2 linked regions of the Homo sapiens genome follow. The protein of the gene in region 2 interacts with the protein of the main gene of each other region in a pairwise test. Each region holds a gene or a part of one and is shown on either strand. Other genes may lie near its edges.

Region 1 (12,120 bases), on a different chromosome or scaffold from region 2:
TGCAGCTTTGACTCCCTAGCTTTAAGGGATCCTCCTGCCTCAGCCTCCCGAGTAGCTGGGATTACAGGCGTGACCACCACACCCAGCCTGCACTGAGTATTTTAGCAAGCTGAGGTTGTGCCCAATGCTGTAGACTGCACAGCCCACAGTCTGTCAGTGTTCAGATGGGAGCCTGGCACCCTGACTGGCCACCCTGGCTGCAAACGCCGAATCCCCAGCACAGGAAAGTTCCAGCCAGCACGATTGGGAGGCGGAGGGTCCCCCATTTCTCCCACAACCTGGGCCTGGGAGAGAGCTGGATCCAGTCCAGGGTAGGCTGTTCCTGCATGGAGGGCCCTGGGAGCCGCCCCTCTTCCCCCAGGGTCAGGGGCTGCACTGGTTGATGGAGCCAGGGTGCAGACAGGCAGCTTGGGTCGCTCTGCCCAGCCCCTGGCCCCGCTGCCGCCTCCCTGCTCCCACCCCTTGGCCCAGCCACATTGGTGGACGCTGGGCAGAGGTTGGCTGGGCACCAGGGGTGACTGAGCACGGAGCTCCCTCCAGGGAAGCCACTTGGTGGGGCCCCACCCATCACCACAGGCCCCTTGCTGTGGGGCTTGGGGCATCCTCTGGCCAGGGACTGGCAGGAAGCTAGGCTCTGGCCTCAAGGCAGCTTCTAAAATGACAGGTTGGGCTCCCCTGCCGGGGTCTGCTGGGGCAGCATGAGCCTGGAGCCCCCTGTGCCTGGTTCTCAGAGGTGGGAGTTGGCCCGGGCAGGGCCTGGCGGCTGACAGCCCCCCACCCCGCCTCTCCCCATTTGTTTCTTCCCATCGGAACTGGGCTTCCCCAGGAGACACCTTGCCCTGCTGGGTGCTGCTTCCTCTCCCCTGCAGAGAGGGGAAGCTGGGCCCCAGCGCTGCGGAACTGAGTGGCTCTCGGGGGCCCCTTCCCCCCTCACCCTGAGCAGGCGGCCGGCTTGGTGGGGTCTGCTCTGTGGGCTTCCTTGGCGGGGAGAAAGAGGTTAACTGGCTGGGGGGCCTGGGGCCACTGAGGCAGAAACCCCTCTTCCCCACTCCCCATCAGCCCCCAGGAGCCTTCACAGCTGAGTTTGGGAAGGAATTTGTTTAATTAACGTACAAAAGCGCCCTCCCCATCTCCTTGGTCCCTGAGGCCTGGCCATCAGGCCGGGGGGCGTCCGGGGGTGCCCGGCTCAGCAGCAGGCACGCAGGGCCTTGCGGAAGACGTTGCGGAACTCGGCGTTGAAGACAGTGTAGATGACGGGGTTGAGGGCGCTGTTGACGTAGCCCAGCCAGGTGACGGCGCTGACCAGCCGCGGGGGCACGGAGCAGGCAGGACACAGCGCCTGCGTGATGTGCACCACGAAGAAGGGCGTCCAGCACAGCAGGAAGGCCCCTGGGGGCGCCGAGAGCCGCGTTAGCGCCCCCCGCCCAGCCGGCCTCGTACCCCCCCCCTCCTCTCCTCCCCGCCCCTCAGGACAGGAACCCACCGACCACCACCGGCAGGACCCTCATGGCCTTGCGCTCCCGGCCGGTGATCTTGGCACGCCGCCTCCTGCGGGTCTGCGGTGGAGTCTGGGGTGGGAGCGCGGCGGCTCTGACGGCGTCGGGGGGAGCACAGTTGGAGCCGCAGGGGTCCGGGGGGAGGCCGGGCGCGGGGGGCGCACAGTCGGGGCCGCAGGGGTCCTGGGGGAGGCTGGGCGCGGCGGGCGCACAGTCGGGGCCGCAGGGACCCCGGGGAAGGCCGGGCGCGGGGGGCGCACAGTCGGGGCCGCAGGGGTCCTGGGGGAGGCGGGGCGCGGGTGGCGTGGGGGAAGGCGGGCCAGGGCCGCTGGGTCGGCGGGGCGCGCGGCCGTGCAGCTTGGCGCGACGTGCCACCTCCCAGCGCTGCAGGCCGCGGAACGTGGCCCAGTAGAGCAGCAGCATGAGCGGGCAGGGTAGGAAGAAGGAGCACACGGACGAGTAGACCACGTAGTCGCGGTCCTCCAGGCGGCACACGGCGGGGTCGCGGCCGCGCACGTCGTTGAGGCCGCACAGTACGGGCGCCGCCACCGCCGCGGACAGCAGCCACGTGGCGCCGATGAGCAGCAGCTGCCGGCGGCTCCCACCCTGCCGGTTGTAGCGCAGCGGCACGGCCACGGCCACGAACCTGCGGGGAGCGCCGAGGGGGCGCCGGACAGCGCACAGGCCGCGGTGAGGGCGGCGGGCGGGGCGCGGGGGCGCCGGGGCGCGGGCGGGGAGGGCGGCGCACCTGTCCACGCTGATGGCGCACAGGTTGAAGATGGAGGCGGTGCACAGCATGACGTCCATGGCCATGAGGGCGTCGCACAGGCGGGGGCTCAGCAGCCACGCGCCACCCTGGACCTGCGCGGCGACACCACAGGCCCTGAGGTTTCCCAGCCACCGCGGGCCCTTGTGACCCGCCCCCACTCTTATGGGTAGTTCCAGGGCTGAATACGGAGAAGGGGGCCCGGCTGTGAGCCAGAGGCCAGAGGACCGGGCAGGGAAACACCCCTTCCCCACGCAGATCTCCCTTTGTTTTGAGTTAGGGTCTCGCTGTGTCACCGCGGCTGGAGTGCTGTGGCTCCATCATGGCTCACTGTAGCCTGGAATTCCTGAGCTCAAGCGATCCTCCCACCTCAGTCTCCAGAGTAGCTGGGATTACAGCCGCGCGCCACCACCCCCGGCTGATTTGTTTTTCTTTTTGTTTTTTGAGACGGAGTTTCGCTCTTGTTGCCCAGGCTGGAGTGCAGTGGTGAGATCTCAACTCACTGCAACCTCCGCCTCCCAGGTTTAAGCGATTCTGCCGCCTCAGCTCCCCCGAATAGCTGGGACAACAGCCGCAGCCACCACCCCCGGCTGATATTTTAAAATTTTTTGTAGAGACCAGGCCTGGTATGTTTCCCAGGCTGGTCTCAAACTATCCTCCTGCCTTTGCCTCCCAAAGTCCTGGGATTACAGGCGTGAATCACGGCTTCTGGCCTTGGTCTCCCTTTTGTTACAAACATGAGAACGGCCTGGGGAATTCCCTGGGGGCGGGCCTGATATCATCGGGCTCAAAGGGAGCCCCTCCCCAGCCTGGGGTAGGCAGGGTCCCCGCTGGGCCTAGAAGCGAAGCTGGCTGCTCTGTTGGCTAAGTTCTCTGTGGGAGACTCGGGCACGTTAATTCATTTCTGTTTCTTCATCTGTAAGACAAGGGTGATGATAGTATCCACATCATAATTGTCTTGAAGATAAATTATAATTAAAAATATGAAGACCGTGCCCAGTGCCCAGCGTAGGACTCCACGTGGAGTGACTCTCTCCAAGGGCAAAGGAGCAGGCAGCCCCTCTAATCCTTCCCGCCGATTTGGGGAGATTAGGAGCTTAAACGTCGTCACTGTGACGTCTGCGGCTCGAAAGGAGCACAGGTCACGCGTGTCCCGTGCTGCTGGTCTCTGCCCCAGCCGCCTGGATTCACTGTGTCCATCAAGGGGAAACCTCGAGTCCCCCTCCCCCACAGTCGGGGACACCGCGTCTCCAGCTCAGCCCTAAGCTGCTTTTCTCTGGCCGCAGAGGGGCTGGCACCAAGGCCGACCCACTCGAGGGCCAGACCTGGTGTGGAGTGTGGGCTCCATCCCCCAATTCCCCCTCAGGCTTCCCCCCAGGGTTCTCAGCAGGGGCCTGGTCCCCACACACCCTCCCCTCCCCTGGGTTTTGTCCAGCCCAGGTCTCCCCTGCGAGCTGTGAGCCTCCTTCTGGGGGTGTGCCAGCATCTGCACTAGGTGTGTGTGGTGGGCAGTGGCTGTGGCAGTGTGTGTGTGTGTGTGTCCCACGGCAGCCAGGGGGCTGAGCCTGCATCTGCCTGTCTGTCCAGCTGGCTGCCCTGGAGGTGAAATCCAGCTACGGAGGGGACTGGGCTTGACAAAGTCGCCTGTTTCCGGGGTCCCTGGATAGAAGGACGGGCATCTCCTGGATAACAGACGCCAAGACAGACGGGGAAGGAGAAGAGGAACGAGGGTCGGGGGACAGACAGCGCAGCGGGTGGAAGGTCGCGAGGTGGCGGCGGTGGGTGTATCGCCGAGGGACAAGGCGCAGCGCCCCTGCCGCCGCCCCAGCTGGAAGCTCCGCACCAGAAAGGGGCCGGGTCGCGCCGGGTCCTCCGTAGGGACAGGGACGGGGAACCGAGGAGCAGGTGAGGATGCTCGTGCGGCCGGACGCGGCTCACCTCGGAGTAGACGAAGAGCGGCAGCACCAGGAGAGCGAGGAGGAGGTCGGCGGCCGCCAGGCTCACGATGAAGGAGTTGGTGGGCGTCTGCAGGGCGCGCTCGGTGGCCACGCTCACGCACACGAGCGAGTTCCCCGCGAGCACCGCGCCGATGAGCAGCACGCCCCCCACCAGCGCCGCCGCGCCCTGCCCAGCCAGCCCCGCAGATGCCCCCGCAGATGCCCCCGCGGCCGGCCCGCGCCCAGCCAGCAGCCCGTCCGCGTCCGCGGTGCTGCGGTTCCCCATGGCGCGCCCGGGCGGGCGCTGAGCACCGCGGACAACGCCGGGTCGCAAGCCGGGGAGTCCCTCCCCTCGGGCACGCCCCGGCCGGACCCTGGTCCCGCCCCCGACCCGCCCCGGCTCAGGGGGGCCCCCGCGGCGCTCCACCGTGAGCCCAGTATTTGCTCATCTTGGAATTTTGCGCAGGGAGAGACGGGCACGTGGACGAATGCGGCGGCCCAAAGAGACGGGAATGAAGCGAGGTGGTGGCCACGGGCAGGCCAGCATCGCCCGGCGCCGCGCGGGGTCCGCGACCCGAGAAACCGACAAGGATGGAGGGGCGGCCAGACCAGGCCCTGAAGCGCGCGGGCATCGACGCCAGCGCCATCCTACCCGGCCCGTGCGTGCGTCCCGGCCCTCGGGCGCTCACCCTAGTCCACCTGGTATCTGGCAAAACCTCCCTCCCAGGCCCGTTCCGCCAGACGCAGAAAGACCTGAGCTCAGGCTCTGCCCGCCTCCCCCGCGGACTCGCCTCGACCTCGTGCGCACCCTCCACGCCCGCTCCCCCTGCCCCCGACTCCGCGCCCGACTCAACCGCCGACGCCTAGCTCATCCCGCCGCCCCCCCCCCGCAGCCTCTGGCCCTCAGCCCCCGCGACCACCACGGTCAGCCGCGGCCCCACCCGTTGCACAGTTGATCCTCGCGTGGCCGCCTCCGAAACTGGGCGGACAGCTGAGCGGTCGACCCCGCTCCCTCCTCCATTCCCTCCGGCCCAAGACCGTGAGCTAGGTAGGCGCCCCTCTGACCCTGGGCAGGGGGTCCCGGGACCGGACAGTAGGTTCGGCTCGCGAGGAGGCCAGGAGAAAGACACGACAGGCCGGGGTAGGTTCCAAACGTGCAGAAGAGAAAGTGCTTGCAAAGCGCAGCAGAGAATTCTATGGACTCTTCACCAAAGAGGGGTGACCTGTGACCTGAGAGGTATTTTCTGTAGTCTGTCACTAAGGGGCCTAGAAGACACTAAAAGGGGGCACCACTCTGTGGGACCCCAGGCGGCGCACATCCTGATGCTCTAGTCTGTTTCTGGGAGGCCTGGAGTGGAGGGGCTGTGCCAGGAATTGAGGCCCCTGACCTCGAAGGTCTGGAGGACACGGGCTAGACGGAGGCGCTGACAGGGCGTGCGTTAAAGGGAGAAATGAGGACTCTGAGAAGGAGCAGGCACCGTGAGCCTCACAGGACAAGGTCACGGGGCTGCGGGGGAAGGGCCTGCACCAGGGACAGGTGTGCACAGGCATCAGGTGCGGCCGCAGCCAGGCTCAGTCCCTCTTGTGCAGATCAGTCTGCTGCCCTTGTGAACCCTTGAGCAAAAGAAGTCACCACAGGAGAGACCACCAGGGACAGGTGTGCACAGGCATCAGGTGCGGCCGCAGCCAGGCTCAGTCCCTCTTGTGCAGATCAGTCTGCTGCCCTTGTGAACCCTTGAGCAAAAGAAGTCACCACAGGAGAGACTGGGACAGTGGAAGTTTCTTCTCTCCCAGGATGGAACCGGGGAGGGTGGCCCTGGGGTCTCCGGCTGGGCGCCAAACGGCGAGTCCAGCCCAGCCTCTGGTCGGCTTAGAGTTCCTTCAAGTAGCCCCCAAGATGTCTGCGACCACCAAGAGTGAAAACCAAGCTAGGCGGAGAAAGGATGTGTGCAGCACACATCTCTGACACACAGATCCAGAAACAATGGAAACAATGAGAAAAGACAGACAACCCCAATTTGTTTTTTTTTTTTTTTTTTTTTTGAGATGGAGTTTCACTCTTATCACCCAGGCTGGAGTGCAGCAGCACAATCTTGGCTCACTGCAACCTCCGTCTCCCGGGTTCAAGCGATTCTCCTGCCTCAGCCTTCTGAGTAGCTGGGATTATAGGCGCCCGCCACCACGCCCGGCTAATTTTTTTGTATTTTTAGTAGAGACACGGTTTCATCATATTGGCCAGGCTGGTCTCGAACTCCTGACCTCAGGTGATCCACCTGCCTCAGCTTCCTAAAGTGCTGGGATTACAGCTGTGAGCCACTGCCCCCAGCCTCCACTAAACTTCTGTTGTTTATCTGAAAATCAAATGTAACTGGATGTGATCACATCTTACTGCAATCATGGCTCACTGCAGCCTCAATCTCCTGGGCTCAAGTGATCCTCTGGCCTCAGCCTCCTGTACAACTGAGACTACAGATGCGTGGTGCCACACCCAGCTAATTTTCTTATTTTTTGTAGAGACGGGGTCTCGCCATGTTAGCCCAGCCGGTCTCAAACTCCTGGGCTCAAATGATCCTCCCACTTCAGCCTCTCAAAGTGCTGTGATTACAGGCATGAGCCATACAGCCAGCCTAAACAATTTTTAATGAGGACCTCCACTCATACCTTACACATTAAAAAATTAACTCAAATATGCTGTCAGGAGAATCAAAAGACACAGACCAGGAAACGACATTTGCAAATGGCCACGTCTGGCAATGTTTCTTCCATTTTAGTGTAGTAGGACGTCGTTGATTTTCCTGATGGCTACTCATGTTTGACCACTTTTCCCATGTGCCTGTTAACTGTCAGCATGCCCTCTTCTGGAATGTGCCTGTTAAAAATCTTTGCTTTTGTTAAAAATTGGGTTGTCTACGCCAGGCGCAGTGGCTCACACCTGTAATCCCAGCACGTTGGGAGGCCGAGGCAGGTGGATCACCAGGTCAGGAGTTCAAGACCAGCCTGGCCAACATAGTGAAACCCCATCTCTACTAAAAATACAAATAATTGGCCAGGCGTGGTGACTCACGCCTGTAATCCCAGCACTTTGGGAGGCCGAGGCAGGCAGATCACAGGGTCAGGAGATCGAGACCATCCTGGCTAACACGGTGAAACCCTGTCTCTACTAAAAAATACAAAAAAATCAGCCGGGCGTGGTGGCGGGCACCTGTAATCCCAGCTACTGAGGAGGCTGAGGCAGGAGAATGGCATGAACCCGGGAGGCGGAGATTGCAGTGAGCCAAGATTGTGCCACTGCGCTCCAGCCTGGGTGACAGAGCAAGACTCCGTCTCAAAAAAAAAAAGCCGGGCGTGGTGGTGTGCACCTGTAATCCCAGCTGCTTGGCAGGCTGAGGAAGGAGAATCACTTGAACCCAGGAGGCAGAGGTTGCGGTGAGCGGAGATCACGTCATTGCACTCTGGCCTGGGAAACAGAGCAAGACTCTGTGTCAAAAAATAAATAAATAGGCTGGGCGAGGTGGCTCATGCCTGTAATCCCAGCACTTTGGGAGGCCGAGGCAGGCAGATCACGAAGTCAGGAAATCGAGACCATCCTGGCTAACACAGTGAAACCCTGTCTCTACTAAAAATACAAAAAATTAGCCAGGCGTGGTGGCGGGCACCTGTAGTCCCAGCTACTCGGGAGGCTGAGGCAAGGGAATGGCGTGAACCCGGGAGGCAGAGCTTGCAGTGAGCCAAGATCGCACCACTGCACTCCAGCGTGGGCGACAGAGCGAGACTCCGTCTCAAAATAAATAAATAAATAAATAAATAAATAAATAAATAATAAATTAAAATTAAAAAAGAAACAAATTTTTTTTAAAAATTAGCAATCATATATCCAGCAAATGGCTTGTATACAAAAAAGATTAATAATTCTCAAAACTCAACAGTAATGATATCACAAAAAGAAAATTCCAAATGAGTATCCTTTATGAATATAGATGCAAAAGTTCTCGAAAAAATATGAGCAAACACAGTCCCTTTTAAAGTGCTGCCTGCCAGAAAAGCAGCATTTTTTTTTTTTTTTTGAGATGGAGTCTCACTCTGTCACCCAGGCTGGAGTGCAGTGGTGTGATCTCGGCTCACCACAACCTCTGCCTCCCGGGTTCACGCTATTCTCCTGCCTCAGCCTCCTGAACAGCTGGGACTACAGGCACGTGCCACCATGCCCAGCTAATTTTGGTATTTTTAGTAGAGACAGGGTTTCACTCTGTTGGCCAGACTGGTCTCAAACTCCTGACCTCATGATCCGCCCACTTTGGCCTCCCAAAGTGCTGGGGTTACAGGCGTGAGCCAGTGCCTGGCCGAAAAACAGCATTTTTAAAAGGATTATGTACCATAACCCAGTGGGATTTATCCCAGGAATGCAAGGGTGAACGAACAGACGAAATTCAATGTCATACACCACATTAACAGAATGAAGAAAAACCCACGCGATCATCCCAACTGATGCAGAAAAAACCATTTCATAAAATTCAAAACCCTTTCATGATAATAAGACTCAATAAACTAGGAATAGAAACAAACTTCATCAGGCCGGGCGCCGTGACTCATGCCTGTAATCCCAGCACTTCGGAAGGCCGAGGCGGGTGGATCACTTGAGATCAGGAGTTCAAGACCAGATGCCCAACATGTTGAAATCCCATCTCCACTAAAAATACAAAAATTAAAATTAGCTGGGCATGGTGGCGCACGCCTACAGTCCCAGCTACTCAGGAGGCTGAGACACGAGAATTACGTGAATCCAGGAGGTGGAGGCTGCAGTGAGACGAGATCGCACCACTGCACTCCACCCTGAATGACAGAGGGGGACTGTCTCAAACAAACAAACAAAATACAAACACAGCTAACATCATACTCAATGGTGAGAAACAAAAAGCCTTTGAAAGAGACAAGGATGCCCACTGCTGCTGCTTCTGTTCAACATTGTTCTGGACATTCTAGCAAGAGCATTACTCAAGAAAAAGAAATTAAAGGTATCCAAAATTGGAAAAGAAAACTATTTCTACTTGCAGATGACATGGTCTTATGTATAGAAGATCCTCCACAACAGGCCAGGCTTGGTGGCTCAAGCCTGTAATCCCAGCACTTTGGGAGGCTGAGGCGGGCGGATCTCAAGGTCAGGAGATCGAGACCATCCTGGCTAACATGGTGAAACCCCGTCTCTACTAAAATTACAAAAAATTAGCCGGGCGTGGTGGCGGGCACCTGTAGTCCCAGCTACTCAGGAGGCTGAGGCAGGAGAATGGCGTGACCCTGGGAGGCGGGGCTTGCAGTGAGCCAAGATCGTGCCACTGCACTCCAGCCTGGGCAACAGACCAAGACTCTGTCTCAAAAAAAAAAAAAAAAGAAAGACACCCCATCTCTACTAAAAATACAAACATTAGCTGGGTGTGGTGGCGTGAGCCTATAGTCACAGCTTTTTGGGAATCTGAGGTGGGAGGATCCTTTGAGTCCAGGAGGTTGAGGCCGCAGTGAGCTGTGATTGAGCCAACATATTCCAAGCTGGGCAACAAAGTGAGACCCTGTCTCAAAATAAAATAAATAATGAAAATGAGTAAAGGACTTGAATAGACATTTCTTCAAAGAAGATACCCAAATGGCCGGGTTCAGTGGCTCACGCCTGTAATCCCAGCACTTTGGGAGGCCGAGGCAGGCGGATCCCTTGAGGTCAGGAGTTCGAGAACAGTCTGGCCAACATGGTGAAACCCCGTCTCTACTACAAATACAAAAATTAGCTGGGTATGCTGGCGGGCGCCCATAATCCCAGCTACTTGGGAGGCGGAGGTGGGACAATCGCTTGATCCCGGGAGGCAGAGGTTACAGTGAGCCAAGAACACGCCACTGCACTCCAGCCTGGGCAACAGTGCGAGACTCTGTCTTAAAAAAAATATGGCTGGGCACGGTGCCTCACATCTGTAATCCCAGCACTTTGGGAGGCCGAGGTGGGCGGATCATGAGGTCAGGAGATGGAGACCATCCTGGCTAACATGGTGAAACCCCGTCTTTACTAAAAATACAAAAAAATTAGCCAGGCATGGTGGCGGGCACCTGTAGTCCCAGCTACTCAGGAGGCTGAGGCAGGAGAATCGCCTGAACCTGGGAGGTGGAGGTTGCAATGAGCCGAGATCGCACCATTGCACTCCAGTCTGGGTGACAGAGCGAGACTCCGTCCCCAAAACAAACAAACAAACAAAAAATATACATATGTCACACACAAATGGCCACAAAGCACTTGAAAAGATGCTCAACCTCATTAGTCACTGGGGAAATGCAAATCAAAACCACAGTAAGATACCATTCCATATCCATTAGGATGGCCATGGTAGTAAATAAATAAATAAATAAATAAATAAAAATACCAAGTGTTAAGGATGAGGAGACATTCACTGCTTTTGGGAATATAAAATGGTCACTGTGAGAAGAAGTCCAGCAGTTCCTCAACAAGTTTCACGTAGAGTTGCCATATGACTCAGTGGGTATGTTACATACCCAAAAGAAGTGAAGACAGGTGTTCAAATAAAAGCTTGTATGTAAATGTTCACAGCGGCACTATTCACAATATACAAAAGGGGCCGGGCATGGTGGCTCACGCCTGTAATCTCAGCACTTTGGGAGACCGAGGTGGGCAGATTGCTTGAGGCCAGAAGTTCAAGACCAGCCTGGCCAACATGGTGAAACCCCATCTCCACTGAAAATACACAAAGTACTGGCCGGGCACAGTGGCTCATGCCTGTAACCCTAGCACTTTGGGAGGCCGAGGCGGGTGGATCACCTGAGACCTGGAGTTGGAGACCAGCCTGGCCAACAGGGTTAAACCCCGTCTCTACTAAAAATACAAAAATTAGCCGGGCGTGGCAGGTGCCTGTAATCCCAGCTACTTGGGAGGCTGAGGCAGGAGAATAGCTTGAACCCGGGAGGCGGAGGTTGCAGTGAGCTGAGATCAGGTCAGTGCACTCCAGCCTGGGTGACAGAGTGAGAGTCCGTCTCTAAAGTAAATAAATAAATAAATATTTTTTAAAAATACAAAAATTAGGGGGTGTGGTGGTGCATGCCTGTAGTCCCACTACTTAGGAGGCTGAGGCAGGGGAATCACTTAAACCTGGTAGGCGGAGGTTGCAGTGAGCGGAGATCATATACTGCACTCCAGCCTGGGCAACAGAACGAGATTCTGTCTCAAGCAGACAAACAAACACAATATATACAAGGTAGAAATAAACCAAACGTCCTCAGCAGGTGAATGGATGAACCAAATGCAGTGTGATTTTTCCATTAAAATGAATGAAATTCTGGGGCCAGGCGCGGTGGCTCCTGCGTGTAATCCCAGCACTTTGGGAGGCTGAGGCGGGCGGATCACCTGAGGTCAGGAGTTCAAGACCAGCCTGACCAATATGGCAAAACCCTGCCTCCATGAAAAGTACACAATTAGCTGGGCATGGTGGTGCTGTAATCCCAGCAACTCCAGAGGCTGAGGCAGGAGAATTGCTTGAACCCAGAAGGCGGAAGTTGCAGTGGGCCAAGATCGCGCCATTGCACTCCAGTCTGGGCAACAAGAGTGAAACTCCATCTCAAAACAAATAAATAAAAATAAATAAATAAATAAAAATAGTGACCAGGGTCTTGCTATGTTTCCCAGGCTGGTCTCGAACTCCTGGCCTCAAACCATCCTCCTGCCTCACCGTCTCAAGTAGCCGAGACCACAGGCATGTACCACCATGCCCAGCTTTTAGGATTTTATTGGTATGAAATACCCAGAACAGGCAGATCCACAGAGACAGAAAGTAAATTCATTGTTACTCAGGAGCTGAAGGGATGGGGGAAGGGGAGGTAAATGCTTTATGGATTTGAGATTTTCCATCTGGGGAGTAAAAAGTTCTGGAACTAA
Region 2 (11,832 bases):
GCACAAGCAGAAGGCTCAACTAAGACTAGAAGGAACTCATCTCTAACAGGGAAAGGTAGACACAGCAGGCACTAGATCATCCTGCAAAACTGGGGCCTCTAAGACAAGCCTCAAATTGCAAAACTTGGGGAGAATAAAAATTTCTTATATTGATCTTTATTTTCACATCAAGTATGTTTAAGCCCTACAAAAATCCTTAAGGTAAGCAAAGTGTTCATTTGTGTCTGGTTTTTGGTTTTTACTCTTCATTCTACAGAAGGAAACTGAAACCCAAGGTGATGTGGTTTATTAAAGCTCACAGTCAGTAAGTGGCCTCCACTAAGGACTCACAGTATAATATTCTTCCCAACACTTCTGAAAATGTTATGAAGATTTAATTACAAAGGTACAAAAGCCACCTGACCACACTTCACAAATTGAAAAGGGAGAATTCCTGTATGAAATCACTTCTTTGGTTTGCAACAGCCACTGCTTGGTTGCCCTAATGCCTTTATTAATACTAATAGGGAAGTGAATAGTTAAATGCTGCTATACCTTCTCTTGAGATGACCTGGTTATGTGCATTCTTTGAACTATTAATAGAGGAAGACTTGTCTTACTTTATCAATACGATTGGTTAATATATATGCTCTATTCTTGCCTGAAAGAACACCAGTACCCTTCCTTATGGGGCCAGGTAAAATTCTGAAGTCTGTGGATTAATTCAGCCCCAGGAATAACACTGGCAATTTCACTATGACAGAGGCAAAGGAGACCCCAAGCCACTCTCCCTCTCGGTGAACAGGAGTACTGCCCTTTAGCTTGAAACATCAAAGGAGGTTTCTGTAGTTTTGCCAGCTCAGCAAGAAAGAAAATTAACTCTGCATTTTCTTATTCCAGTTGCCTCAGCATGGGTTGGTAGGGGAGGGGGTGGGGAAGAGAGTTACACAGACTCTGTCAGCAGGAGAGATCAGGGCTCATTGTGTATGCGCCCTGGCATGGGTTAGAAGGAATTATAGAGTCACCAGAAATGAACACTTTCTAGACTCACCATGAATTTTCTAAGGTTCTCTGCAAGTCCAGATAATTTGGCAAAAAAAAAAAAAAAAGAAAGAAAAAAGAAAGAAAATGCCCTTCAAATATTTTTTCTGTTTAAATTTGGAAACCTGTGGTGAAAATCACTATTAAAAAAAAAAAAAAGAACGAGAAGCTTCAATTATATTAAGTAAAATGGCTCAGCTTAATTAATTCACTAAGTCCCTGAGTGACACTGGGTGTGGCTCAGAGAGATTTGGGAGGAATCCAATTTATCACTAGGAAGAATCGCCTGCACCAAGCAGCAAGGCAGCATCCTTCCACACCTTCCCAACACTGCAAGGAAAGGCAGAGAGGTCGGAATTTTAAACCACAGATCACACTCTCAGAGATAAGATTTATTTGTTGCATGAGGAAAAAAGCAGATATTGGCATGGATGGGGGGCTGGGGAGTAGAGGGACTACTTGCTTGCATGAAATTCTTTACACTTCAATTACAAACTAAAGTCATTATTTTTCAACAAAAGAAACACCTCATAGTTTTCTTGCTTTGTAGACATAAATCACACCTTGCCAAGTTTTTAATCATCTGCAATACACATGGCAATTAAGCTATTTAAAGTAAGCCCCAAGATATTTGAAAATCATAAGGCAATACAATATTAGGGATTATTTTATTTTATTCCTCCTTTGCCCACTCCTTTACCATATTCTCATCTCTACCCCACTCTCATTCTCTTCTTCCTGCTATAATAATCTATAGTGATAACTAATGGCTAATAGAGATCATTTATGCTTTCTTCTCACCCACTGGCAATGTATTCCAACTTAGAAATCCAAGGTTGCTTCTTTATGCCGCTCAAGTGGAAGAGGAAGGAAGTGCAAGCCCTTCAGCCCCCCTCCCACGTTTCTGCTGGATTTTATGGGTGTGGCAGAGCTTAGACCTTTGCAGGTTTTTGCCCTTGTTTTATTCCCTGTTAAGTACTACGATGATGAATAGATGCCAGCAGAAGGATGGGCACCACTGGATTTTGTCATAAATGATACAGAATTTCATCCACAAGCAGGCAACCTGCGTGAGACTTAAGTACTCATGCTACATAAATGCCAGTCAGTGTAGTGTGAGCCCACGCCCTGAATACACCATTTCCTTTAGTCTGATTGAATGGTATCCTAAATACTGGCTAATGTGAATGATACACAACAGTGGTTTATAAGAGACATGACCATTTCACACAGAAGTACACATTTATAAAATGCATGAGCAAAGTAGGACAATTTCTATACCTTTAATTTTCTCTTGAATATAAATGATGCTAAAACACAGAGAGGCATGTGGAAACCACTTACACATGCAACTGTAGCATATGAAGTATGTGGATGCTGTATACATTTACATGCGAATTTCTACAACTCTAAACACAATTTCAGCTTCATCACTTTGCACATCAGAGTGAATGCTTGGGGCTGTTGGTGAGATAGAGCCCCAGGGAAGGCAGCTGTCTTCATTTTGGGAAGGGAATTCCTTTAGCCCTAATTCCTTTTCTAAAAATCATACATGATTTCCTTTATTAAAGGAGATGTATGTATACTTGCATATGTACACATAGGGTGGGAACAAATTATGAACCTGAATATTTTTCTTTCCAAAATTAAAGCTTTTTAAGTGGATGGCTTTGGCTTACTTAGTGCTCCACCTTCCTAAATGTTATTTCCCCAGCTCACCAGTGAAATAACCTCAGGACTTTTCTTTGACAGTGTTCTTAACCCAGACACCTGTATTTATTACATTTATATATTAAAATGAAGGAGGACACAGAGAGAAAATGCCCTGGTTTGATAAAATGAGCCAATGGAAGCATCAATCTCTGTAACCATAGGGCAGTTTCAGGAGATGCTGCAAATACCGCCCCCAACTCAATCCCCCACTATCCGACTTTTTCCCCCAAATAGCCCCACACAATCCAGGATGTCTGCTTATTTATTTATTTATTTATTTATGCCAAATCTCTACTCCCACTGCTCTGACATTCTGCTTCAGTCTCCCATCCTCTTCCTGCTCCTTCTCCTTCATCCTCACTCCCCACCCTTCCTTCCAGGGCGCTGGCTAAATGTGCTAAGCTGGCAGGCTGTTTCTTCTCCACTCTCTTCCACCCCCTTCGGATTCAGGGAGTGTATTACAAATTGCCCAATTTCCAATACCTGCACTGGAAATTATACCCAAATTCCATCTCTTGCACCCCACCCCTAAGGCAATCAGTCTGCGAAGGGCTTCTTTGACCAAGATTGCCCCCACCACACCCCCACCCCCACCACAGTCAAGCATACGCACACACTCACCCGTATCCCACACCCATTTTTCTCTTTAACCTTTGCCAAAATCACTCAAATGCATTCCAACAAATGTTTGAAAGCTTCTTTTGGAGACTGCCATGGCATGGTCGGTTGCTGCGGAATACCACACTCGTCATTCCTTCCCACTCTCACCCCAATCAAGTTTCTAAAATGTCTTTCAAGAAATAAGCGAGCAATTGGAAATGGCTGTAAAACCTGGGCAGTGGGGGAGGGAAGGAGGGGCTCTGATTCTTGCTAATCTTGGATGTGTCCCTCTTCCTGATGAAAATGAGTCACCATACTTATTATCCAGGATGTTAGCCTGTCTCTGGTCACTGACAATCCCAGGAAAGAAGCAAGGGAAGGGGATAAGAGAAAAGACCTGGTTTCCAACAGGTAATACCCGGCTGTCTTTCCCATCCCATCGGAGCTCCTAGGGGCGTGGTCCACCCTCTCCTCCGACCAGCTGGTGCACAATCGGCTGCTGATCTTAGGAAGGGGATTTTCTCCTTCTGCATGGCCAATTTCTCCCCCAGCCCCAGTTGTCTTAGCTTCTCTTAAAAAAAAAAAAAATCTATCAAATCACAGTTTCATTCATTCATTGAAAAATAAATACTAAATAAATAAGACCTGCACGTTTTTCCATAAATACCTGCGCCCCTTCGAAGCTCATGCATGCACGAAATAAGGCATCTTCCGCAGCACATGTGAGAAAATTGTATGACAGAGAGGCAATACTCAGTTCTGAATATTATTTCCTCAACCCTGCTTTTTTGCAAATAATATAAAGAAATGCCTCCCCATCTTGTAGGTAGAGCCCACATCATCTCCCCCACACCCCTTTCTACGTCCACACCCTCAAGACCAGAGACCTCAAATGCTGAGCATTCACTAATAAGAAAAAAAAAAATTATTTCTAGCCAAACAGGCATGTTTTTTCTACCCTCACCCTAATTAGTAGCAGCATTCCAAAACCAGAGCATGAAAGACAGAAAAGAATAAAAGCTGGGATGCAACCATCAGTTACCATATGCTAAGGAAGCGCGAGCACCACGGCCAGAGCAGAAGCAGTAAAAAAATTGTTTGCCTTTACGGGGAAATACTGTACTCGGGTTATTTCACAACAGCAAGAAGTAAAAAATCTTTAGCTCTACCTGTTTGGTTCTTCTCATACAGCACAGCATGGTTGTCTCGTCCCTTGCCTTCTTCCTGCCTTCTCTCCTTTCCTTCTCTCTCTTTCTTATTCCCCCCCTCTCCACCTCTTTTCTGCTCGCTTGCTCACTCGCTCTCTCGCGCTAGCGCGCTCTCTCTCCCTCCCTCCCTCTCTCTCCCTCACACACACCAGGGCAGTTAGCAGCAACTGTAAGGTCCACAGCTATTGCTCATCGCACATGCTCGCTCCCTCTCTCTAGCGCTCTCTCTCTCTCTCCCTCTCTCTCTGGTGCTCTCTCTCCGCTGTCCTCTCTTCCCTCTCTTCTCCTTTTTTCTCCTTCCCCCCAATATCTATCTATCTGTCTTTTTCTTCCCTCTCTCTCCGTCTCTTTCTCGGAATTGTTCTCTAGCCTTCAGTGACTAATCACTTCCCCCAGCCCCTACCCCCATTCTAGACAGTCGCCCCCTCCCAGTCCCCTGCCAGCCTCATGAATATTTAAACACCTCCAATCTGGACCCAATTACCCACCGACTTTTCCACTGCATTGAGAGGGTGATGGGGTGGGGGCAGAGAAGGATATTCCAGTCAATCCAGGAGATATGATAGAGCATGTTTTAGGGAAGAGGGGCTTGAGGAATCCTTGTATTTCTTTAAGAACTCTTTTCCTCTTTTCCTAGTATTATAAAAGCAAAGAACAGCTATTTCTAAAGAGGAATTGTAGTCAGTCCTATACAATATAAGTCATATCTGCCATTACATTTTATGCATAGTTAATAATTGTGGAGGTTAATTTCCCTCAAAAAATGAAATAACATGTAAATATCATACACTGTTTATATATTCTTCTCAGTATACATATAACCTGAAATAAATACAAAGCTTAGATATGCACAAGCATATTTTATATATGTTCCAATATCCTGGAAAAAAATCCACATAAATATATTGCATTTTAAACATTCTAAGCACTTGAGCTCAGAAATAATAAACAATGTTTAAGAATTGGCATCCATATCTAAAATCACATGGTAGTTTTTTGTTTTTTCCTTAATGCACATATACCTGTTTGTAAATTGTGGTTTCTTCTAATTTTACTGAAAAAGCTGAGCACATTCAAACAGGTCTGTGTAATATTGACGGTGATCAAAATGATATTTTACAATTTGGGCATGAGAGATTAAAGTGAATTCATCTGAGATGAGAAGAAACGATAAGTCATGAAGCCTACTTCTTGAATTCCTTCTATGGCCTTTCATAATTTTGGGGGAGGAACATGTGACTCTTAAAGTGTGTATAGCACAATTTTTAGTTATTTATTGTTGAATGAGTTTGAGTGTGTTACTGAAGCTCTTTGCACCTAATTTTCTCATCTTTAAAATGGAGATAATAATGCCAATCTTGACAACATGTTTTGAGGACTAAATGATATAACGCATGCAAAGCACAACAGTCTCTCTGAGTGTATAATAGCTTTACTCCAGAGACTGTACTTTTCTGAAATTCGGGTGACATTTGCAAGTGAATATCTCAAAGAAGTTTTCAAACTATTTCTTGTTGTTCATTAGTGATGACAAGTACCCCTAATTAAACAGCTCATATTCTTCATAGTCCCTCCTAGACCTCCTAGACATAAACCTAGCTAATAAGTGGCAACTAGGCAGCTTATTGTTAGGCATATTTCAGGATCACTGAGCTCAATAAGTGCTTAGTACATTTTAACATAATTTAAGGTATATCTATTTCAAAATGGACTATCTCAGACAGGTACCTGGGAACGATGGTGATGATGATACCCAGGAGGTGATATTTAAAATTAGCCTTAATTATTCCTCAGGAGTCTTCCTGAGAGTGGCCTGCTTCAGATCCGCTGATTTGGTCTTTCATTCTTCTCAGTTTGCTTCCTAGTTTTCATATTTATGATTAAAAAACAGAATTAGTTTCTGAGTTTAATAATTTTTTAATGTTACAAGGAGCCCAGCCGCTTTCAGAACAGCCTTCCGTGATTTTAAGTGATAAAAGAGGACAAAGAGTGGGTGAGAAATGGCTCCTACCAGAAACATTCCGGTTGCAGATTAGGAACACCCTACCTAGCCTGCTAGTGGCTAAAGAGCAATGAAGGGAGGAGGCAGAGAATGTGGGGATTGGGGATGATGGAGAAGAAATTGCACCTTTTGGTGTTTAAACAGGATAACTCCATTGATAAGACCATTTCATTAACTATGTGGCCAAACTTAAAGAGTGGGACTAATTCCTTTCCCTTTCGATGTACTCACCTCAGCCATCCCATTTATATTTTTCCCCCTTTATATATGGGAAGGAACCTTGGAAACAAAGTGGCATAATGAAGTTAAACAAGCTAGGGCTTAAAACTGGGCACAAGCATTGATGAACTTTGTGACTAAATATGTGAAACCACCCAGCTCAGAATCAGCTTCCTCATCAGTTTACATGCATTATTTTATCTAATACTCAAAATGAGGTAGGCACAAGTAGTAATCCCATTTTGATGGGGATGCTAAAGCTAAGGGAAGTTAAGTGCCTTGACTAAGTCACAGAACTAAGAAGTAGTAAAGCTAGGACTCTATGTCTCTTAACAACTAGGCTACATCAATCACCACTTAATAGGCCTCTACTCTTCATTACTTCTAGTCCTTAAGAGATTAAACTACATAGTGGAAGTTTTAATGTTGAAATGAAATCAGCATTCAATGTTGAAATGAAATCAGCAAGATCCATCTTTTAGGCCCAACTCTTACTTCAAGAGCCATGGAGAATAAGCTGATATCTTCATGCAATAGAGAGCCCTCTATGTATTTCTGATGAGATGTCTGCTCCTTCAACTACCCTCAGGTGTCTCAGTGTGTAAGGTCCTCACCATTTTGGATGCCTTCCTCTGGACATACTACATTCTGTCAATGAACCTTTAAAAATTACCTCCCAATTTGGAAGCCTAAGATTCCAAATTTAATTTGAATAACATGGAATCAATTCTAATGCATCTTTTTCTCTAAGCAATGGTGGTTATGGATGGCAAAAGAATAAGGGAGAGACAAGCACAAACTGATATGAGCTTTGCAAAAAATATATAAAAAATAAAATAACCGATGTCCCGATTTTTGCCAAGCAAATACACAATAGACCCACTAATCCTTGTACTTTATAACTAATCCTAGACAATGCATAGGCTTAAGCCCCATGGCTAACCCTTTTACAATTTTAGATTAGCAAATTAACTCATAATACTATCAATTAACTTCTTGACTATAGGTTAGACAATAATAACATTCTAGAAAAAGATGAAGAGTGGTGGAGGCCAGATCCCAGTTCCACGCTCAGATCTCTTTGAACTTTATACTAAAGTGATACTGCTTGTATAATAAAACCAAAAGTCACTGACCTTTACTAAGGGCTCTGTAAAATAGTCTACCATTTTAAGATTATGGCTGGTACTTGAGAGAAGACAATGTCATCAATTCAGGTAGAAAAGATGTTAGTCTTATTTCTCCCTTTTTTAAATTTTATTTTATATTTTATTTTATTCTATTTTATTCTGAGACAGGTTTTCTCTTTGTCGCCCAGGCTGGAGTGCAGTGGTGCAAACATAGCTCACTACAACCTTGAAATCCTAGGCTCAAGCAATCTTCTACCTCAGCCTTCTGAGTACACAAGCCTTCTGTGAACTACAAGTACACGTCACCACTCCTGGCTAATTTTTTTTTTATTTTTTATTTTTGTAGAGACAAGGTCTCATCATGTTGCCTAGACTGGTCTCAAACTGCTGGCTTCAAGCAATCCTCTCACCTCGGCCTCTTCTCTTATTTTTTCAGTGCTTAATCTAAGCCTTTTACTTGCTGCATTAGTTTTCTAGCATTGCCGTAACAAAATAGCACAGACTGGGTGGCCTAAAAAACAGAAATGTAATTTCTGACAGTTCTGAAGTCTGGAAGTCCAAGATCAGGCTGGTGGCTGAGTTGGTTTCCTCTGAGAGTCCTAAAGGAAGGTCCTTTCCAAACCTCTTTCCTGCACTTGCAGCTGGCCGCCCTCTGCTGCCTCTGCACATGGCATGGTTGCCCCCCTGTGTGCATGTGCACCTCTGCTCTCTGTCCCTGTGTATCGTAAGCTCCCCTTCATAAGGACACCAATCAAATTGGATTAGGGCCCACACCTATGGCCTCATTTCACCTTAATTTTCTCTGTAAAGGGTCACATTAAAGATCTCCAAATACAGTCACATCTTAAGGTACTGGGAGTTAGGTTCCAACATATGAATTTGCAAATAAGGGGGACATAATTCAACCCAAACACCTGCTTTCTCTGTCCATACTTGCTGTTTTCATTCACTTAATCTATAGTTTCTATGTTGCAAAAATCATCCTTCCCTCAAGGAAAGTCACACGTACATGAAAAGCAAAGCAAACACTGTGTGCACAAAATATGATTCAATGTCAAATGTGTTTGATAAGAATTCAAAATAGGAAATAAACCACTGTAGACTAAGATGGGCTTTTTGTTTCAGGATTAGGATTAGAATGAATAGAGAAGACATAGGAGTTTTAAAAAAGGGAAAGGGATCACATTAGAAAAGACAAAATGCACAAATAATCACTGCATGATCAAGGGACTGGCAGGATACAGAAGTGGGGGGAGTTGTAAAGGATACTGGTAAGAGACAATGTTGAAAACGTAGGTTAAAGCCAGATTAAGAGGGATCTTCAAGATCAGGCTAAGGGGATATATTAGTTTCCTAGGCCTGCTGTAACAAATTTGGTAGCTTAAAACAACAGAATATTACTTTCTCACATTTCTGAAAACCTGAAGTCTGAAATCAGTTAGCAGGGTTTTGTTCCCTCTGGAGGCTCTGAGGGAGGATACATTCCAGATCTTTCTTTTAGCTTCTGGTGGCTGTGGTCAATCTTTGGTGTTGCTTGTTTTGAAGAAGCATCACTCTAATCTCCGCCTTCGTCTTCATAAGACCTTCCCCATTCTGTGTCCCTGTGTCTTTCCGTTTTCTTCATTCTTTTTTTTTTTTTTTTTTTTTTGAGGCAGAGTCTTGCTCTGTCACTTGGGCTGGAGTGCAATGGCGGGGTCTTGGCTCACTGCAACTTCTGCCTCCCAGGTTCAAGTGATTTTCTTGCCCCAGCCTCCTGAGTAGCTGACACTACAGGCATGTGCCACCACGGCTGGCTAATTTTTTGTATTTTTAGTAGAGGACTAGTTTTGCCATCTTGGCCAGGCTGGTCTCAAACTCCTGACCTCAGATGATCCACCCGCTTCAGCCTCTCAAAGTGCTTGGATTACAGGCATGAACTACTGTGCCTGGCCCCATCTTTCTCTTTCTTAGAAAGACATCTGTCATCAAATTTAGGGCCCTCCCTAAATCCAAGATGATCTTATCTTGAGATCCTCAACTTCATTACAAATTACACCTGCAAAGACTTTTTTTCCAAGAAAGTTCACATTCAGTGGTACCAGGAATTAGGACTTGGACATAGCTTTTTGGGAGACGCAAGTCACCCCACTACAAGGGATTAGACCTAAGATTTGTGGATGGGGACATTTTAAAGAATGCCTGTGGTAACATTGTGTAGTATGAAATGGTGAGAAAGATATACTGGGGTCCTGTGAGAGAAACATATATCTGCGAGGAATCATGGAAGAAAAAGTGAACTGTCACCTGTTAAGTACCTAATATGTTCCATATACCACATATTTTGTGCTTTACATAGTTTGTTTCTTTTATCTCACAGGAGAATATCTAGGAGGAAGAGAAGAATGGAAGAACCAAAAGTTGTACAGAGATTGAACCTAGACAGCCTGGAAAATGAGAATTATAAAAGTCAGAAAGGGACCTGGTTTTGTGAGAAAGGTGATGAGTCAAGCTTGAAAGTGTTCATTTTATGAAAGCATTGACGTGTTCAAGAGCAATACAGGATCAGATGGTAAGAAACAAGAGTCAGAATTGTCTTTCTATGGGTCATTGTTGGAGCCATCAAAGGGAATTCATTTTGTGAGCTACAGTGTGCTATAGAAATCAGAGGACCAAAGAATAAACTTTGAGAAATGTTCAGGTTTCAGGAACTTAAAGACAAGATCAAGAAAAGAAGCCATCAAGGGGGTAAACTAGAGGTAACAATAGCCTAAAAAATGCTTGAGAAAGTTCCTTGCCTTTATCCTCTTAAAATGTCATTTATACATTCAATTGATTTGTCATTATTTAAATACCTGCATAAGTAAGTAAACCAGGTGTGATTTTTTAAGTATCCATAGTGAGAACTATTCAAGGAATGACACATCTCTTTCCAGAAGAAGGGAACGTTCTACATTGTGCTGTCTCAAGATGTTAATTTTAATCATCCTGAATGGAAATACTGAAATTCAAAAACCATAACAATAGCTGGTCCGAAAACAATATATCATCAAGATCCAAGATTTGAAGTAGGACAACATGGAGGTGCACTGACGTTAAACTAACATCCTCTTAGCTAAAAAGTAACAAAACAAAAAACAAAACAAAGAAAACTCCAAATTAAAATCTTTACTTTTCAGTGGTGAGATTCTTACAGCACTTGGTTTCCACACCTTCTCGGTCATAGTGGGGCATTTTCTACAGTAGAAGATGCCTCATGTGTGTCTACCAGGTGAAGAAGCAACAGCAGCAGAAATCACAAAATTAGATCCTTGCTCTATACAAATCAAGCTGAAACAATAATTATATCTAAGAATGTACTGGGAAATCTTCAATACTCCTGTGGACTTTTAAATACTTTTTAGCAGCATTCAGGGCTCAGATGACCTTGGTTTGGGACACATTTCTCAAGGTCTGTTAGCACCAAACCACCTAAATGTGGATTCCTCACGTTTGCCCTGTTCCATGGCTTGGCACCCAGCAGTACAACATTAAATAAAATCTCTCTCAGATAGAAACTTTAGAACTAGGTATTCAACTACTTGCTGTGAATACACACAGATGGCTCATAGATACCCCCATCTCAAACTAAAACTCAACTTGGCCTCTTGGCTGCCAGCTTGTTCCTCTCACTATATTCCCGGTATTAGTAGAGCGCCCCATGATTCATCATTCACCCTAGTCAGCATCACCTCCTCCTTCTCCATGACAACCACCACGCCAAAACCAACCAGTTTTCATTTCCTCCTAAATGTTCTGCCCATCTTTATCTCTGAAATATTCTTTTTTAAGTCTTTCTTCTTCAATTCCTCTAACGCAGGCCTTCAGCATTTCTGGCCAAGATTATTGCAATAACATTCTAATTGGTTTTGCTATTTTTGTATTTACCCACCATTTAGTTCTACCTTCCACACTTCACCCAGAT

What was found.
Region 1: the proteins of GAP43 (region 2) and DRD4 interact in binary tests that used the Homo sapiens proteins (3 or more experiments, as listed by UniProt).

Annotation. Positions count from the first base shown.
Region 1 is NC_000011.10:629,670-641,789, reverse strand, and holds DRD4 (D(4) dopamine receptor), read right to left. Parts: upstream 4,522-12,120; 5' UTR 4,486-4,521; coding exon 4,201-4,485; intron 2,358-4,200; coding exon 2,245-2,357; intron 2,143-2,244; coding exon 1,484-2,142; intron 1,390-1,483; coding exon 1,187-1,389; 3' UTR 1,084-1,186; downstream 1-1,083. UniProt on the Homo sapiens protein: Dopamine receptor responsible for neuronal signaling in the mesolimbic system of the brain, an area of the brain that regulates emotion and complex behavior.
Region 2 is NC_000003.12:115,616,390-115,628,221, reverse strand, and holds the start of GAP43 (neuromodulin), read right to left. Parts: upstream 4,713-11,832; 5' UTR 4,533-4,712; coding exon 4,503-4,532; intron 1-4,502. UniProt on the Homo sapiens protein: This protein is associated with nerve growth. It is a major component of the motile 'growth cones' that form the tips of elongating axons. Plays a role in axonal and dendritic filopodia induction.